2 separate regions of the Homo sapiens genome follow, and region 1 is linked to region 2. A link means that fine-mapping ties the variant in region 2 to the expression of a gene that starts in the linked region. Tissue or cell type: gastroesophageal junction. Region 2 holds a variant in brackets; the other region holds the start of a gene. All regions are shown on one strand. Distances are between the middles of the regions.

The links. PIP is the estimated chance that this variant, and not a neighbour inherited with it, causes the effect.
Region 1: LEPROTL1 starts here. The variant in region 2 is fine-mapped to the expression of LEPROTL1 in gastroesophageal junction (GTEx, PIP 0.96).

What each region holds. Positions count from the first base shown.
Region 1 is chr8:30,092,840-30,098,222 of GRCh38, reverse strand. LEPROTL1 (leptin receptor overlapping transcript like 1) reads right to left here and starts at 2,815. Exons shown (of 4, transcript NM_015344.3): 1 at 2,695-2,815. The coding sequence starts at 2,710. RefSeq lists a silencer at 2,508-2,967 and an enhancer at 5,083-5,252.
Region 2 is chr8:30,122,615-30,127,997 of GRCh38, reverse strand. It overlaps a transcript of LEPROTL1 not described here. Among named protein-coding and RNA genes, the nearest start is that of MBOAT4, 19 kb to the left of the region's middle. The variant A/G (reference allele first, on the strand shown) is at 2,996.

The DNA.
Region 1 (5,383 bases), 30 kb after region 2:
CCTTGTGACACAAAATTTTCTAAGTTTATCTTCCCACACTGAAACAAATGGGAATTAGGAGAAAGAGTTGCATACAAGCAAGAATTGCCCTTTGACAGGAGGGAGGAAACAACAAAAAAAATTTAAACCAGGCAGAAAAATCTCAAAAAGCATGTTCACGGTAATCTCCGCAAGAGGCAAGCCACCTTAGGACCATGAGGGCCTCTGAAGGTGGCTGTTCTGTGACAGAGAACAGTCATTCAAGTTTTTATCAAAAAAGAAGGCCTAAATTCTTTGATTACACTCTTACAAAGTTAATGAAAAATGATTCCTTAAAAAAAAAAAAAAACCAAGGGACTAAAATGAGATAAGGCTCAGGTATCAAAAAACAATTTTAAAAACATAAACCAAGATTGTCTTATTGTAAGTGCTATGAATATGAATACTGGAATAACATTTGTTTGGGGGAATCAAGATACCTTGAGATAATACTTCTACTCCATTAAATACTAAATATGTGTGTGTGTGTGTGTGTGTGTGTGTGTATATATATATATATTTTTTTTTTTTTTGAGACAGAGTCTCACTCTGTTGCCCAGGCTGGAGTGCAGTGGCGTAATCTTGGCTCACTGCAACCTCTGCCTCCCGGGTTCAAGCAATTCCCTGCCTCAGCCTCCTGAGTAGCTGGGATTACAGGTGCCTGCCACCATGCCCAGCTAATTTTTTTGTATTTTTAGTAGAGATGGGGTTTCACCATCTTGGACAGGTTGGTCTTGAACTCCTGACCTCATGATCCATCCGTCTCGGCCTCCCAAAGTGCTGGGATTACAGGTGTGAGCCACCGCGCCAGGATTAAATACTAAATTTTTTTTAAATATTCATAACACAGTTTGATGTGACATCTCATCTTCCAGTCATACCGAATAAGGTAGCCAATTAGAGGTTAAATAAATTGCTTAAAAGTGTTCTCAAAACTTGCAGTTTCTTCAATCTTATGAAATTGGCAACTAGGAAGATTTATATATACACTTCATCATTTGTATATAAGCTGTTTCTTAAATGACACATCAACAAGGCAAGAATTCATACAGTAATTGAGTGATGCAACATTTGGAAGACAAAGCTTAGATAAGTCTGGGTTCTACTCCCAAAGCCTCTAGGCTAGGCATGGAGCAGCCCAATTATCTAGCAAAACTCTCTAGAGACAAGATGCTGATTCTGTGATTACAAAGAAATTAGAGTAGAAGGAGGGACCACTTCTCTAACCTGGGAGTTACCAGAAAATCCAATATATCAAAAAGTAATAGACAAATGGCTCAAGCAATGCCTAATGGTCTCTAATTACAGCAACACTCCTTCCTAATATAAAGATATTAGGCCAAGAGAAAGAAACATACTGACTCATAACAACCAGAAAATCCTGCTGAAATCAAAAGTGCAGTTCACCTGAGGCACCTTCATCAGTTTAATGCAGTATTTCCCTAGGTCTGGAGAAGTAAATTACAAAGCTATTTTCTTAAGAGACCCCCGCATTATTGACACTGAAGAAACAGGGAAGAACAGGGAAACGGGCAACATCCTAAAAACCACAGCAATTCACAATAACTGCCTTTCACATAAGGGTTTAGAGTCTATCATAGTTCAAAAGGAGATTACAAAGTATCCCAGTTGCTTAAATGACAAGGTTTTATATGGGAAATGAAATGTTTTCAGACATTGAAAATAAACAAGAAACAGTAAGACTGTGACCCTGAAAAAAAACTCGATTAAGTTTTCCTTAGAGAAGAAAAAATACAAAGAAAACCACTGCTCCCAAAGTTACCTGCTTCCTGCCTGACTGCCCTTCTACAGAGCGGCAGGTCAAGAAATCAATGTAATTAGTTAAGCAGTAGCTGAAAACTTTGCTTCTCATCACACTGACAACAAAACTACCTAACAGGTGGAACAAATGCAACATTCCTTTTTTTAAAAGAAAATACATGAATAAGCCAGTAGTTTTTCATTAAGTTGTACCAGTATTTTATCTTCTTAAAAAAAAAAAAGGAAAAAAAGAAAAATTTTGAAATTTGAAAAAGCCTCAGGGTGCAACTGCGGAGAGGGAAGAGAGCCAGGAGCACTTTGGGGTCGCCTACAGGATCAACTCTAGGGTCCAGACACCGCAGATGAAAATGCACCCGTTTCGGGAGCCTGTAAAGCCTCGGGCGCGGGCGGCCGGGGTGGACGTGGGGTCGAGGTTTCGGGCAGACCCGTGCAGCGCCCGCAGACCGCACTTGTGCCTTTCGGTGGGAAATGACTGGTTTTCCATAGCTGGCATCTCTAGCAGCCTCAGCCTTCTCAATCCCACGCTCTGCCTGCCTCTCTCTCGGATGCAAACTCCTGCAAAACGTGTGTGGCCGTCCAAGTCGCGACGGGACTCCTCACTGACCGCCAACCACTTCATATTTTGTCCGGGGGGCGATGGGTGGGAGAGAGGCTGCCGAAATCGGCAGAAAGTGGGGGCTGCGGGGCGAAGCCGGGGTCGCAACCGTCCGTTGCCCGAGGGCGCCGCGCCCACCTCCGGGCCAAGCGCAGGGCCGGGGCGGGGGTCGCTTCCCCGGCGCAGGGACCCCACGCGCGCGCGCGAGCCCGGAGGGGAAGTGCGGGGGCCGCGTGGGACCCCCGGCCCATCTTCCCCCGCCGGCCCCAGCCCTCCCGCGTCCTGCAACCCAGGCCCACCTTTGATGCCTGCCATGGCGGTGACGTCGCTCCTGGCTCCACGACCCGAGGCGGCGGCGGCAGCAGCGGCAGCCGGGAGACCCAAGACGCGCTACGGCGGCCAGACAACACCCGGAAGTGCGCGACGCAGCACTTCCGCCGGCGACTCGGGCTCGCGCGGGGGCGCGGGGGACGCGCCGGGCTGGGCTGTGGGGTCGACCCCCTGCCTCTCTTCTCCGCGGGTGTGCAGATCGCCGCCGGCCGAGGCTTGCCGCCGCCGCCCCGACTGGGGGAATGAGCAGGCGCCAGGTCTTGAATTCCTGTCAGGGCCGGTCTGGGGGCTCCCTGCTGAAGCCCCTGTCCCTGATCCCGCAACCTCCCGCGTGCGTTGGGAAGGGGTCGCGGGTAGCGGCCGTCCTTTGGATGCACGTGTGATGGCTTTTGGCTTAATTTCACATTGTTTTGTTTGTTTTTTGAGACAGGGTCTCTTTCGCCCAGGCTGGAGTGTGATCACGGCTACTGCAGCCTCGATCTCCAGGGCTCAAGTGATTCTCTCACGTCGGCCTCGCAGTAACTGGGACCACAGACATGAGCCACCATGCCTGGCTTTTTTTTGTTTTGTTTTGTTTTGTTTTTTGTAGAGACAGGGCGGGGTGTGAGACTCTCATCTTGTTGCCCAAGCTGGTCTCCTGAGCTCAAGGATCTGCCCTCCTCGGCCTCCCAAAGCGCTGGGATTACAGCTTGATACCCTACCTTGTTTTAACCTGATTGACTCGCTCTTAGCTGAGAGAGCGGGACAGACTCCATTTTGGTTTCTTCGCTTGCAGCACCTTGTCCCCCTCCCTTAAGGACATAACTGGTGCAGACTGACACCAAGCACATCCAGGAATGTGCTTACTGATAAGATACTGAGGCAAGCTGTACCAGCAGCTCCTGGGAACGCGCTCGGTTGATGGTACCCAAAGCCCCTGCGTTTATCTCTTTGTGATAATTTAAGCCCCATGCACCTGGAACTGTTTATTTTCCTGTAACTGTTTCTATAACCATTTATCTTTTAACTCTTTGCCTGTTCTGCTTCTGTAAAAATTGCTTCAGCTAGACTACCCCTTCCCTATTTAGACCAAGGTATAAAAAGAAATCTAGCCCCTTCTTCAGGGCCGAGAGAATTTTGAGCTGTAGTCGTCTCTCGGTCGCCGGCAATAAAGGACTCCTGAATTAGTCTCAAAGTGTGGTGTTTCTCTATAACTCGCTCGGTTACGACAACAGGTGTGAGCCACTGCGCACATTATTTTACTGCGCCTTTTCCTCTCTCCCTCCATCCCTCCATCCCCAGTCCTATAATTAAGGTTAGTTGGGTGGTCTGCACTTGGCTCCTTGGTTTCCTATACAGGACTAGGGTTCTGGTGAGGACCCACCTCCAGAGATAGGAGCAGCAGGGCTCAGTAAAGGGTGGATTTAATAGAAATCCAGTCCCTTGGGTGGCTGTCTTTTTGGTAGTAACAAGGCAAGGAAAAAAAAGTGAAAGCCCAGGTTCAACACCTTTATTTACACATCCTACAATTATTTATAGAACATTTACTATGTGTTAGGCACAGGGTTAGACGCTGAGATGTGCAAAACCAGGTACTGTTTGCAGACTGGTGAGGAAGACAGACACACAAAAAATGTAAAATTGCAATAATGATAATTGCTAGTAAAGGGGATCAGAATATGTCACTCTAAAATATGCCACTTTGAAGTCTGGTGTGGTGACTCAGGCATGTGATCCCAGCACATTGGGAGGCTAAGACAGGAGGATCGCTTTGGCCCAGGAGTTGAAGACCAGCCCTGGCAACATAGTGAGACTCCATCTCTACAAAAACGAAAAAAAAATTAGCCAGGCTTGGTGTGTGCCTGTAGTTCCAGCTACTTGGGAGGCTGAAGTAGGAGGATTGCTTGAGCCTAGGAGGTCGAGGCTGCAGTGAGCTCTGATTGTGCCACTGCCTGGGCAACAAAGCAAGACTCTGTCTCCAAACAAACAAATAAATGTCAGGCCTCTGAGCCCAAGCTAAGCCATCATATCCCCTGTGACCTGCACGTACACATCCAGATGGCCGGTTCCTGCCTTAACTGATGACATTACCTTGTGAAATTCCTTCTCCTGGCTCATGCTGGCTCAAAAGCTTCCTCACTGAGCACCTGGTGACCCCAGCCCCTGCCTGCCAGAGAACAACCCCCTTTGACTGTAATTTTACTTTACCTACCCAAATCCTATAAAATGGCCCCACCCCTATCTCCCTTCGCTGACTCTCTTTTCGGACTCAGCCCACCTGCACCCAGGGGAAATAACCAGCCTTGTTGCTCACACAAAGCCTGTTTGATGGTCTCTTCACACGGACACGAGTGAAAATAAGGCTAAGGATTGTTTTGAGCTGAAAGCAAATAAGAAGCAACAGGCATAGGAGGAGCTCTCTGCTCTCTCCTTTTCTACCCAAAGGCCGTGCTTAAGTTCCCTTTGTAAAGATAACATAAAGTTCCACTTTTTGTTTTGTTTTGTTTTTCTTTTGAAACGGAGTCTCGCTCTGTGGCCAGGCTGGAGTGCAGTGGTATGATCTCGGCTGACTGCAACTTCCGCTTCCTGGGTTCAAGCGATTCTCTTGCCTCAGCCTCCCAAGTAGCTGAGACTACAGGCACGCGCCACTACGCCCAGCTAACTTTCAGTCTTGCTCTA
Region 2 (5,383 bases):
GTTTCCCTATCCTTCATTACCCACTCTATTACTTCCAAGACTCTGCCCATTGCTCCTGAATTCCCTTTGCTACATGACTGGTAGTACCTGGTTATTGACACCCCACCCGCTCTTTTTAAAAAATTCAATCACTAACCTTCTGGAATATCCTCTCATTAATGTTCTCTGACCTCACTTCCAGATCTGGATTTGATGTTTTCCTTCTCTTGCTTGATCTAGAAGTAACCCTCAGGTTACCCCTGCTTTTTGTCTTGTTCTGGCCCATTTATTGGCCCAAGCAGAATACATATACGTGTGTGTGTGTGTGTGTGTATTTTTTTTTTTTTTTTGAGACAGGGTCTCACTCTGTCACCTAGGCTGGCATGCAGTGGCACAATCATAGCTCACTTCAGCATTGAACTCCTGGGCTCAAGCGATCCTCCCACGTCTGCCTCCCAAGTATAGAATAGTATTTTGATGAATCGTGCCTATCCTTACAAATGCAAGGATGGGGCCAGCTGTCTCTGTCTTGCAGGCAGTAGCCTTGGACAAGTGAACTCAATTCTGTGGACCAAGTACTAGAGCTCAGTAACCCATGGAAACAGCGCCCATTGGGCACACACCTCCTGACCTCTGGCCTCCCACTTTCATCAGCCGAATCACTCTGAGAGGTCTGGCAGCTCTTTCAGGTCCCCAGGGGATCTCATTCATTTGTTTGAAAATAGTGTCTGAGAGTTTGGTGATTAAGAAATCCCTAAGAGGAGGGTAAGCTAAGCCATGAAAACCATCAAGCTCAGGATGCTGGCAAAGGTTAATAAGAAAATGTTTAGCAGAAAGCTATAGCATTAGCCTTTCTAAGAGCAGCAAGAAACTATAGCCTTCATTATTTATAGATTGAAATGGCATCATCACCTAGGAAGTGTCATGAGAACTCAGGTCATCTGTCAGCATATTATTTTGTATTTTCTTTTTTTTTTTTCAGACACAGTCTCACTCTGTCACCCAGGCTGGAGTGCAGTGGTGCCATGTTGGCTCACTGCAACCTCCGCCTCCTGGGTTCAAGCGATTCTCATGCCTCAGATTCCAAAGTAGCTCGGATTACAGGCGTGTGCCACCATATCCAGCTAATTTTTTTGTATTTTTAGTACAGATGGGGATTTGCCATGATGGCCAGGATGGTCTTGAACTTCTGGCCTCAAGTGATCCTCCCGCCTCAGCCTCCCATAGTGCTGGTCTGGCCTGTCAACATATTATTCTGAATATACTACCCTCATAGTGCAGCCCCATCCTTCTGAATCATAGCAGCTACTAAGCTGGGCTGGCCTCCTTCTTAATCTGTAGACAGTTGTCATGATCAACAGGCAGCCAGTGGCTTTAATGTATGTCCCAGGTTTAGCAATCCACTCAAGTAGTTAAACTTTTCCATAGGAGACAATCCAACCTTGGCCTTTTTCTATCTATGTAGTTTCATAAAGCAAACCACAGGAAGGCTTCACTGATACACATTCAGTCTGTTGATTCATCTATACTGGATTCATCAATTCCATGAGGACTTGGAAAAGGAGGTTGGTATGGTTTGAACGTGTCTCCTAAAGTTCAAATGTTAGAAACTTAATCCCCCGTGCAGCAGTGTTGGGAGATGGGGCCTAATGGAAGGTACAGTCATGTGTCACTTAATATGGGGACACATTCTGAAAGATGCATTGTTAGGCTATTTTGTCATTGTATGAACATCATAGAGTGGCCTTACACAAAGCTGGATGGTCTAGCCTACTACATACCTAGGCTATACGGTATAATCTAGGGGTCTCTGACTCCCAGTGCTGATCCACAGCCTGTTAGGAACTGAGCCACACAACAGGAGGTGAGTGGCAGGCAAGATTATAGATAGATTATGGGCATTGCAATGACCAATTGCAATCATTAGTAATTATCCTGATTAGAATGCCAACTATTAGATAGTACATTCAAATCACTTACAACAGATTCTTCACAGATTTATAACATAGGAGATGGTTCAGGAAACTTGATTCTCCATAGTCTAAGAGTTCAGTACTAACAGGTGAAGGGATAGTGATTATATTTTATGTGAGCTTTTTCCAAATGTCTAAATGCATCTATTTCCGAAACATTTCAAAGGAAATTATAGAGTAAAATGGCCGTGACTACTTTAGCATTTTCTTCCTGATAATGGCTGATTCGGATGTTAGCAAAGCCATCTCATGGGGAAGCAGTCTGAACCCCTCTCCTGGAGGCAGGAGTTCTGGCCCTGTCCCAGTTCTAGCACAGGCCAACTGTGGGACCCAAGCAATTCCATCTGGGCCCCAAGTTTCCTAGTACGCCATAACAGGATGTGGATAAAATATTCCTTTTAGAGTATTTAATTTTAAAACTGAAGGCATTATGATTGTATAAGTGTTCTATTAATTTTTCAACACATTAAGCAGAAAAAGTAAGGCATCCATCTCCCAATCTGCCTCTATTCATCCAACAAGAATTTTATAGAAAGCAATGGAAGAAAATCTGCTGAGTGCTCAAGGTTCTTTATAAACACCCGGCATTTCCTATTATATTCCTTCCATTTGTTTTCTATTGTATAAAAAGAACAAAGTGATATTTTTGTGGCTCATCAAAAAACTGAGAGTTGACAATAGTTCTCTCCTACTAAGAAAACACTGTTAACTTCTCTGACTCTTTCTTTTCTGAATCGTAGGTTTAATTTCTTAGCCTTTATTTGGCAGCTCATAACAGTCAGATACTTATTAATCTGTTCTGGCTCGTTTCCAGGGACAATCATAACAACAGCTAGAGATGCCAGATTATTTCTAAGGAAGTATTTTTGTCTTACTTGGTTCTTGCTGCACCTTTTTCTTCAGAAACACCTTTTAAGTTACAACAAGTGAGATAATTATGTACGTATGTTTTCCTTGCAGGGAATTTGTGCAGTTCATAAGATTCAAGTGATACTTTGGTTTAGTTTCATGGCCAATCTGGATATGTTACATCGAGTGCCTTA[A/G]GTGGATTCATTAGCCTGAGGACATGTGAGGTGATGTTTTCTAGCATTCTCAATTTACTAAAGGAATGCTTTCCACAACTTTGCTTCTAAATTGTTTGTTTAGAGGTTAGATGACATTTCCCTGTAGAAAGAACATTATGTTAACTCCTAATGGATGACACTCATGGTAATGACCTGAATTCAAGGGAACATGTTGTTTAGGATTGAAGAGAAGAGCAAAGGTAATTTCCTCCCTATTTCTTAAATATGCAGCTGACCCTAAGTACATTTTATTTTTATACTTTTTTCTGTTTATATAGTTATTTACATAACTATATAATAAACTACATTTATGAACTATATATGGACTTTGTTTAGATCTTGATTCAAATGAACCGACTTTGAAAGAATATTATAGGGAAATTTAAACACTAATTGGATAGTAAAGCTTTATTGTTAACTTTTTCAGGTGTAATAATCATACTGTGGTTTTTCTTAAGAATAAGGAAGGGTCACATTTTAGAGATATTCACAGATTAAATGATATTTAATCTTGGATTGCTTTAAAATAATCTGAGTTAGAGAGAATGGAGAATACATGGACGAAACAGAACAGCCATGTGTTCAGAATTGTTGAAACTGGTTGATTGGGAGTTCAATATATTCTATTTTTTATAGGTTTGAAAATTTATATGAAAACAAGTGTGCAAGAGACTACTGGGTAGATAAGGAAGAAGGAAGTCAGATACAGGAATTTCCATTCCCCAATTCCTAATGAAAAGATCAAAAACTGCAAAAAATCATTGTGGCCCCAGTGACCCATCCCCTCTTCTGGCATTTTCTTCATCCCACATTGAATCAAGGTTGGTCTGTGTGATGAATATTACATGACAGAAGTGATGGTATGTCACCTCTGAGATTAGGTTATAAAAGACAGTTAGTATAAGACTAACAATCTCACCAACTTTGTGTTTTGGTAGTTTCTTCTTCACTGCACTCCAGGTACAATGGCCTTGCTATCTTCTGGAAAAAAAAAAAAAAAGCCTATTCCTCCCTTTGAGCCTTTGAAATTGCTTGTCCTTCTATCCAGAATGTTCTTACCCAGGTCTCTGTGGATAGAGATGCTGCTCCTTTACATCATTCATGTCTCTGTTCAAATGACATCTTGCCAGAGAGGAACACCTTGTCTAAAATAAATCCCATTCCCATGCCATCATTCCCATCTCCTCACTCTGCTCTATTTGGTTCATTTACTTTTCATTGATTGAAATTATGTTATTTATTGTTTGACTAAATGAATAAATGATAGGTCTGGATAGAGCTTCCTAAGCAGGAATAAGTATAGACATGGGAACCATGCAAACATACTTCATACTTGAGGTTTGTATGTGTGTATATGTATGTGTGTGTGAGTGAGAGAGAGACGGAGCGAAACAGAGGAATGCTAGTATGACATGAGAAAACCTGACATATTTAGGAATAAATGTAGTAAAATGACTGCAAGACTTGTACTTGGAAAACTATGAAACACTGCTGAGAGATGTTGCAAACCTCAATAAATTGAGAGATATATCATGTTCATTGATTGAAATACTCAATATTGTTGTGGCAGATTGCATTTTCCAAAGATGGACACCATAATATATTCCCTCCCATATGCTTTTCTTACAATGTAACATTAACACTCTTCCCATTGAATGGTCTACGGTCATTCCCCTTGAACCTGGGGGGACATTTACACAACTGGGTTGACCACTAGAGTATGGCAGAAGTGATGCTTCGTGACTTCTAAGGTAGGTCATAAAATATCCATACACTTCTGACTGGTTTTCTTGGGATGATTCACACTCTTGGAATGGATGTAAGAAAGCCACATTGCCATGGAGAGGCAGAGTTTTATATGGAGAGGAGCAGAGACCCCTGGCCTTCATACTAGCTGAGCTCCCATTTAGACATCCAGCACCAATTGCCAGCTATGTAAGTGAACCATCTTGGGAGATGATCCACCAACCCCCAGCTGACACCATGTGGAGCAGACAAACACGTACTGTTAAGACAGGACCAAATTACAGATTTGTGAGCTGAACCAATGATTATTGGTTTAAGTCAATAGGTTTTGGGTGGTTTGCTATGCTGCAATAGGTAACTGTTACAATTGTTAAGATTCATTCTCCCCAAATTGATCTATAGCTTCAATGCAATCCCAATTAAACTCCCAAAAGTTTTTTTGGGAGAGAGTCTTGCATTGTTGCCCATGCTGCAGTGCAGTGGCGCGATCTCAGCTCACTGCAACCTCCACCTCCTAGGTTCAAGGGATTCTCCTGCCGCAGTCTCCCGAGTAGCTGGGATTACAGGCATGCACCACCACACCTGGCTAAATTTTTTTTGTATTTTAAGTAGAGACGGAGT